Linked DNA regions of Homo sapiens: region 2 is linked to region 1. Evidence: fine-mapped expression QTL. Tissue or cell type: whole blood. Region 1 holds a variant in brackets; the other region holds the start of a gene. All regions are shown on one strand. Distances are between the middles of the regions.

Region 1 (4,391 bases):
ACAGGAACCCAGCTGACAGGTAGGGTGGAATCTTCAGGAGCACAGGTGGGAGCAAGTCAGAGCATCAAGCTGTTAAAGTGGAGAGCAGAGATGTGGGAAAATGATTTTTTAGAAATTCAGACATCTAGCATTGTGGGATCCGCTGAGTCCCTCATTTGCTTTTTTATTTCTCTTTTTCCATGAAAATAATGATTCTACGTACTCTGCCCTGTGATGGTTATGAAGTAGAATAAAACATTGTTCCAAAAAGATTTCCTGGCTGGGCACGGTGGCTCACGCCTGTAATCCCAGCACTTTGGGAGGCCAAGGCGGGCGGATCATGAGGTCAGAAGCTCAAAACCATCCTGGCTAACACGGTGAAACCCCATCTCTACTAAAAATACAAAAAAAATTAGCTGGGCGTGGTGGCGGGGCGCCTGTAGTCCCAGCTACTCGGGAGGCTGAGGCAGGAGAATGGCGTGAACCCAGGAGGCGGAGCTTGCAGTGCGCCGAGATTGCGCCACTGCACTCCAGCCTGGGCGACACAGCGAGACTCCATCTCAAAAAAAAAAAAAAAAAAAAAAGATTTCCTGAACATCTCCTGTTTACCAGACATGGAGCTGGGTAGGCACTGAGGATACAGAAGTGAGTTAAGACACAGACTTTGCCCTCCTGGAGTTTCCCAGCTAGGATAGGAGTTCACACCCAGAATCTACATTCTTCTTGAGTACAAAGTCAAGGCTATTGTTTCTTCCTTCAAGAAACAAACATGGAAAATTAGAAATAAACTTGCCATAATTCATGGAATCTCCAACCCAAAACTTTTTGACCAAAAGTCTGGAAGACAATTAGTTACCATCAAAGATGTCAGTTGGCCTTATTAAGTAAAAGGTTGCCAACCAATGAGCTAGAAAGGCATTAAAAAAATGTTCTGGCAGAAATGCTGCCTACATTTCCCCAGACTTCATGAAGTTGTGGGTGCAGATAATGTCACGGACACAGAAATAATGCACAGCACATTGGCTTTTATTCCCACTTACTTTAAAAAGTCAAAGCCTCCCCTACTTATATCTGGGAAAGCCCAAAAATGTGCCAGGATTAGGAGACAGTCTAGGATGCACACTTTCTGCCACTTGCTTCTCCTTCACCCTCTGCTTGATGTCCACTTCATCGAATGTGTCTCTCTTTCATCACTGGTACCATTCCTCTATTGAGACATTCATGCCTGTGATACCTGTACCCTCCCAAAAGATGCCAACCCTTGAGGTACCAAAACAGCTCTAGAAAGAAGAAGTGATTGTCTCTTGCGTATTTACATTACACATCATGTATGTCCTATGTCTCACAGGACCCTCATGGAAACAGGGCTTAGGGACCATGCCTCCCTCGCTCTTCCTCCCATGTAAGTTATCCCAACAAAATAGACACAGACTCTCGTTGGTCTCCCACCTGCCTTCCCCCACATCTAAAAAATGAGTCATGCCTGACATGTCTGAACCCAGTGGTCAGCATGGCTCAAGTTCAAACTAGAGTCCTTGAAGAAGAACCTGCTGAATCCTAGGCTTCTGCGAAAGAGCCAGTAAATATGTAGCTCATTTATTCTTCAAAAAACTCAGAACACAAACTAAGTGTTGAATACTTGGAATACCTTGATCATTTTTCTTAAAAAGACATAGTCCCGCTACTTTTAAAACTAGTAAATCCAAAACACAAAAATACGTAATTACTAGCAAAGACAAAGTATTATGAAAGAAATAAAGAGCGATGGAAAAAAGATATTCATAGCTTACCAAAACACAGCCGAAATTTGGGGGCAAGTTCAAGAGTTTTGAACAATGTTTTATTGTCTCTTTACATGTTGACTAAGTACAGATCTATTGAGTTGGAACAAAATGTCA[T/C]GCAGGTCATTCTTAACAACTCAGTAGGTCCTACAGAAGGTAGCACCTTGTACTTTCTCATTTTAGTGATCACCCACAGACTACTGTTAGGTCACTGAAGAGGATTTGCAACTGCTCTCAGGTTTTTGGACACAAAAGATTATGCTCTGCTCTTTGTATGTGAGCTGTGAAGTGTTAAGTCCTTCCATCTTGGTGCTGTCCACACACAATAATGTTCATAATTACATTATCCAGATTAGTGATTAAAAAAATAAAATGCTAAGCCAGTGTCATCCACCGACAACGTTAACCCAGGTGGATAGACATTAAGTCAGTACTACTATATGAACATCAGTGCTTCCATATAACATCAGTACTTCCTGCCGATGTTAATGCCATGTGGAATGAAATAAAACCCACTAGACTCCAAATATGCTGTCTGTATTACTCTCTTCTTCCACACATTGCCCAAAGGAAACTAGTCTTCTCACATGATCAGCTCTTCACAGAATAACTGCGATGACCATGGAGTATCCTCAGGTCTTCCATATATTTATCAACTAAAGTTTTTATTCTTTTATGATCCCACATCAGAGATGCACAAGTTTCCTGGTGACATTTTGTGTCAAACTCTGTATGAACTGAGTTCCCAGAGGCTATTTACATTTAACATCACTACAGCTATGGGTTTGCATTAGGTATTCAGTGTTTTTCTGAGGCTTTATGTAAATCAATTACTTTAAGAGCTAATAACATGTCCCAGTGACTTCAATTATAACTTCAAAGAATAGCTCCCACTGGGACTATGCAGGCCATAACACATATAGAGACACATGTAGAGAACATCCTGTCTTTGTCAATGCATGGTCTACATGCATGTAGTTGCCTGCCTTATATTGTGTTGGGCAAATGTACAAATCAATTAACATGCTCTTCAGTGACCAATTATTAATGCATTTATTAAATTATGTCATATTAAATCAGTATTGCAATCAGATACTCTTACCGATCTTGAAAATCTGACTTTCTAAAAATCACAAATTTCATGCAATTGTTCCAGATATTTTATATGACCCCATATCTTCTTGTCTGAAGAAGTGTTCCTTGAAGCAATGCTCAGAGTATGCAACAAGATATTACTGGGAATTTCAGTGCAATTCATGCAATTTTTTTAAATTGTTAAATATTAATTGACTATATACTGATTAGTGAATGCCACAGCCAAATTAAAATTTCTAATAAAGTATATTGATGACATGTTTCCATCTGGAAACAACAACTGTTTAACAAAAAACTAAACAATACATTTTCTAGAAGCACACAGCTGGTACAGCAGTTAAACATGTAAACAATAATTATATATATCACATATGTAATGTGATACTAATGAAATACTGATTAATTATGGTAAGAAAATAATAAATATAATCAGAAATATGATTGGTGCTTTATCAAATTACATATTGTCACAGTAATACTGTACTCCATCTTCCAATAGCAAAAGGAAGAAAAATATAAGTCTAGATACACACACACACACACACACACCTGCATGTAGAAGAGCTATACATGGTAAGTTCAGGAAAGGAAATTTTACAATAGCACGGTTAGAACTAACTACTTCCCAATGCTGTTCAACTCCCTCTTCTAGTCCATGTTCATTCAAAAACAAAAAAAATTGACTCACATATTGGTGGAGGAACTGGCTCTGAAAATTCCAAATTCTGCCCCTTCACATGGATTCTTGAAGCAATTAGAATAGGCAGTGATCAGGGGCAGGCATGGTGTCTCATGCTTATAATCTCAGCACTTTGAGAGATTGAGCTGGGAGTCTCTCTTGAGGCCAAAAGTTTGAGAATAGCCTAGGCAACATATGGAGATCCCATCTCTACAAAAAAATTAAAATAAAAAGAATAGGCAGTGGTTTTTTTCATGCTAACAATACTTCTTTGCCCACCTAACAAATTCTACCCATCCTTAACATCCCAGCCCAATCACTACTTTTTCATTGATATCTTCAGTGTTTCCCACCCTGCCACACCCACCCACCACAGCAAAAACAAACTTTTTTTACATTTATCGGTTCACTACAAAGGATATTTTAATGAATCCAAACAGATGGTCAGATGAAGAGATTCACAGGGCAAGATCTGGAAGGGTCCCAAGTGTGGGAGCTCCTGTCCCTGAGGACTTGGCAGCATGTGAATGTGTAAGCCTCCATGTGTTTGGCTATCTGAAAACTCCCTGGCCTTTTCGATTTTTGTGGAAGCTTCACTACACAGGCACGATTGACAATTAAGTTACTGTTGGACCCTGCACATATCATACCCTCTGCAGTGCCCTTAAGTGACTATACTGAGATTGTTTATAAATATATCTCCCCTCTGGTTCATGAGCCCTTTAGGACTAGGAATTGCATCCATGTGTTTTCAGCTTGTATCGCCAATGTCAAGCACAATACCTGGCATGGGGCGGACAAGCATTCAATAAGTATTTGTTGAATTTCTTAATTAAATTAAATTAAAATTGATGAGA
Region 2 (4,391 bases), 50 kb after region 1:
AGAGTGGGAGGGACCTTTTAACACAGAGCAATGATGACAGTTTGTTGGCAAATCCCACACTGAAGTGCTGGTGCCTTGTTCGGTGACAAGAAAGAACAATGTTTAACAATGTGTGTTTTATTTTTCTTCAGTTTTTTTGTTTGTTTGTTTTTGAGACAGAGTCTTGCTCTGTCGCCCAGGCTGGAGTGCAATGACGCAATCTCGGCTCACTGCAACCTTCACCTCCTGGGTTCAAGTGATTCTCCTGCCTCAGCCTCCTGAGTAGCTGGGATTACAGGCATGCGCTACCACACCCGGCTAATTTTTGTATTTTTGATAGAGACAGGGTTTCACCATGTTTCACCATGTTGGCCAGGCTGGTCTCGAATTCCTTACCTCAAGTGATCTGCCCACCTTGGCCTCCCAAAGTGCTGGGATTATAGGCATGAGCCACCACGCCCAGTCTCTTCGGTTTTTCTAATAGAAAACCTAGCATATTTTAAACGATTTTGCCACTTAACACTTATTATGGACCCACAGGGTATGAGGGCCTTTGGAGATCATCTAATCGGACTTCCCACCCAACTACAGGAATCATTTCATTGCAACAACTCTTTAAACCCGTCTAGAAAATGCAATGCTCTCTCCCCTTTTCCACGGTTGAACATCTTCCTCATGGCCCTATAATAATCAATGATAATTAATGAGCCTCTTCCTCTCCTTGGACAAAGAAATATGATAGGAGAAATGTTTAGTTTGCTGATGCCCATCATGGGGGAATAGTCCACTGGTAACTCTGGCTTTTGGGTTCAGGATTAGACAGAGTGGTTAAACTAAAATATTTATCGTAAGTATGAATTTGTTCCACAAACATAACATTTCAAAGGTAGCTTTGTTTCCTCTTTCCTTGCACTGCCAGCTATTAACTTTCGGTTCATTAGTCACGATTTTCAGAATCCACTTGGCTGCCACCTTCCTGCAGCCAGACCATCTTGGATCAGAGGGTGGGCCAGCCATTCCCACGTCACACCTGCCACGGGATCGATTTTTTCCCCCATTGACCACAGTCACTTTTTGTCAATTAATTAATGTTATTCACCTGGTACCCATCTTGTGAATGGTAGGTCACTACGGAGCGGATTACTACTTCATATCCCATCAATGACAGAGCCATCATTACGAAAACCTTTTCTGACAACCACTGAAGAGAAACCATCTCCACACCGTGCATTTTGCATCACTTCCGTTGCTTCTTTACCTGATTTATCACAAAGACTATGTACCACACATCTTCTTTATTAATGCATTGACAATCAGTGAAGACAATGAAAACCCACCACTTTTGTCCGTGAACTGAGAAAGAAAATGGCAATGTCATATGGCATTAATGATGCATGAGATCTATGGGTGTAGTGTCACGTCTAGGCGTGTAGTAATCCAGTCTTCGGCCTTACTCCAGGGAGAAAGATTCAGCTTTGTTACTTTCCAGTCACTCTCTCCCGTAACACAGCACCTTGGCACAGAAAGCAGAGCGACAAAACCCAGAATGAGGACAGTTAAAATTCAACTCAAGCTACAGCCATCCCAACGGTCCTCCCCAGCTCCCGCGGAATATTTACCAAGACCGTTTAAAGCACTTAATTAATTCACTTCAGCTTCGCTGGAGAGGTCTCAGGGTTCCCGAGACTCCATTACATAATATCTTTCACAAAGTCTATTCCCAGCTCGAATGGAAGATGGATTCTCATCCAGTGTGCGGAGGTTCCATGCCTTTGCTTCCCTTTCCCGGAGTTCGATCCGGCGATACCCTCCCGAGGCTGCAGCCATCGCCCCGGCCCCGAGCTTCTGGGGTACCCGCCACTCTTCGAACTCCAATCTGGCCCCGAAGGTGCAGCCGCCTCGCCCTCCTGGCTCCCAGGCCGGCCGCTGCGGCCACGGTGCCAGCGAGCGCCCGGGACACCGCGACTCTCGCTGCTCGCTGGGTGCGCCCCAAGCCCATCCGCAGCGCACCCGCGGCGCCGGGGCCAGAGCCGCAGCTCGGTGGCACGGCCGGCTCGGTGCGCCGGGCTCGGGGAGGAGGAGATCGGGAAGAGGTGGAGGCGTGTGAGGGAGGGAGGAAGGGCCCGGCCGCCCGAGAGGGGGAGGGGGAGGCGGAGGGGGCCGGCCGGGCCGGGGAGGGGGGGCAGCCAATGAGCGGCGCGCGGCGCGTGGGGGTGGGGGGAAGGTCTGGGGGAGGAGGTAGGATGGGGGAGGGCGCAGCCCGAGCGGCTGAGGCTCCAGCCATAAACAAGCGCCCGGAGGAGCGGCGCAGGAGTGAGGCGAGCGGGGCGCGCGGAGCGGACGCCGCGGATCTTGTGCTGCGCCACCGCGCCCACTCGGCAGCTCGGGAGGCGGGGACCGGCCCGGAGGCTGCGCCGCTGCGGGGCCGGCCGACTCGGAGGAGGAGAGGGAGGAGGCGCCGCCGGCCCGGGCTGGAGCCGAGCGCAGCAGCCACCGCCGCCGCCGCGCCAGAAGTTTGGGTTGAACCGGAGCTGCCGGGAGGAAACTTTTTTCTTTTTTCCCCCTCCCTCCCGGGAGGAGGAGGAGGAGGAGGAGGGGAAGCTGCCGCCGGCGCCAAGGCTCGTGGGCTCGGGGTCGGCGCGGCCCGCAGAAGGGGCGGGGGCCTCGCCCCGCGAGGGGAGGCGCGCCCCGGGGGCCCCGAGAGGGGCGGTGAGGACCGCGGGCTGCTGGTGCGGCGGCGGCGGCGCGTGTGCCCCGCGCAGGGGAGGGCGCCCGCCCCGCTCCCGGCCCGGCTGCGAGGAGGAGGCGGCGGCGGCGCAGGAGGATGTACTTGGTGGCGGGGGACAGGGGGTTGGCCGGCTGCGGGCACCTCCTGGTCTCGCTGCTGGGGCTGCTGCTGCTGCTGGCGCGCTCCGGCACCCGGGCGCTGGTCTGCCTGCCCTGTGACGAGTCCAAGTGCGAGGAGCCCAGGAACTGCCCGGGGAGCATCGTGCAGGGCGTCTGCGGCTGCTGCTACACGTGCGCCAGCCAGAGGAACGAGAGCTGCGGCGGCACCTTCGGGATTTACGGAACCTGCGACCGGGGGCTGCGTTGTGTCATCCGCCCCCCGCTCAATGGCGACTCCCTCACCGAGTACGAAGCGGGCGTTTGCGAAGGTACGGCCGCCCGCTGCGGGCCCCCTCCCACCTGGCCTGCGCCGCCCCCTCGGCGCTGGTTGTGCCGAACAAAGTTTGGGCGAGACTTTCTGGAGGAAAGAGGGCTCTGCGGGAAGAGGGGCGGCCGCCGCCCCCAGGAGAGTGCCCCCGCGGCCCTGCGTTCCCTCTCCTTGTTCCCCCCGACGCTTAGGCAGTCGCGGGCGAGGTTGGGTATGGTGGGTGGGGGCGAGCGAGTGGAGGATCGCCCCTGTCCCCGCGCAGACGCGCACACGTGTGGCCGTTCCTGCTGGGACTGGGTGGCCCGGCCTTGCTCCCCGAGGTGGGGGCGCCGCGGGCGGGGGGCACTGCAGATTCTGCCGCGCGCGAGCCCCTCGGGGAGCCCGGCCCTACCGCCCTCCCCGCACTGGCGCAGTGTGGCACCGTGAGCCGCACGCCGGCCGCGAAAGTCCTTTTTCTGTTGGCGGAGGAGACGTGTCTCCAGCTCGCACTCCCCGAGTGACTCTTATTATTTTTTCCTTGAGCTCTTCCTTCACCCCTTCCTCCTCCTCCGCAGATAAATCAGTTTCAGCCGCGGAATATGTCAGCCCAGGGGAAGTTACACACGGTGGTTACTCATTTATTTGCCCATTGTAAACGGTCAAAGGCTTTCTCTCCTGAAAGGAAAGGGGGGTGGGGGTTGCACCTGGGAGTAAAAAGTTGTTGCTATTAGTGGCTGCTTTTTAATATCAGATACCCGCGTGTTTCCTGTCGTGTTGCCGGTTCCTCCTTTTTGTTTGTTTGACAGCGGGGATTGTTCTGCTGGCTTCTCCAGCACGCATTGTGCTCCGCGGTGTCGAGATTGACGGTGGGAGAAACAGATTAGATTAGTGGAGTCTTTCTCGTTGGGGAGCCAATGTTAGTGCGTGTTGGCTTTAATCCCTGCCCGCTTGCGTCGGCCTTCAGGGTGCCTGGTCTGGTTTGGGGTCTAGAGCGAGGCAGTGAGTTATTTTGATGTGGCTAACGGGGGCACGGTTCGGTAAGCATCAGTTAAAAGTGGGATCCCTGCTCTGGCTGACGTTGGGCTGATGATGCTGTTCCGGGGGCATCCTGGCGAGTGAGCAGAGCGCACGCAGCAGCCTCGTTTCTGGGGAGGCGGCGAGGAGGGACAGGCGCCCTCTGCCCGGCGTGCCTTCCTCACTACTCACAGCCAGCACCGTCCAGGGAACGGTTTATTCCGAAGCATCTTTGTGTGTGTTTGTTTAGTATGCTGGGATACTG

What was found.
Region 2: it holds the start of CRIM1, and the variant in region 1 is fine-mapped to the expression of CRIM1 in whole blood (TOPMed, PIP 0.96).

Annotation. Positions count from the first base shown.
Region 1 is chr2:36,303,613-36,308,003 of GRCh38, forward strand. No RefSeq gene overlaps it. Among named protein-coding and RNA genes, the nearest start is that of CRIM1-DT, 50 kb to the right of the region's middle. The variant T/C (reference allele first, on the strand shown) is at 1,878.
Region 2 is chr2:36,353,490-36,357,880 of GRCh38, forward strand. CRIM1 (cysteine rich transmembrane BMP regulator 1) reads left to right here and starts at 2,289. Exons shown (of 17, transcript NM_016441.3): 1 at 2,289-3,134. The coding sequence starts at 2,804. It overlaps CRIM1-DT (CRIM1 divergent transcript), which reads right to left and starts at 2,081. Exons shown (of 2, transcript NR_037631.1): 1 at 1,599-2,081; 2 at 1,260-1,492.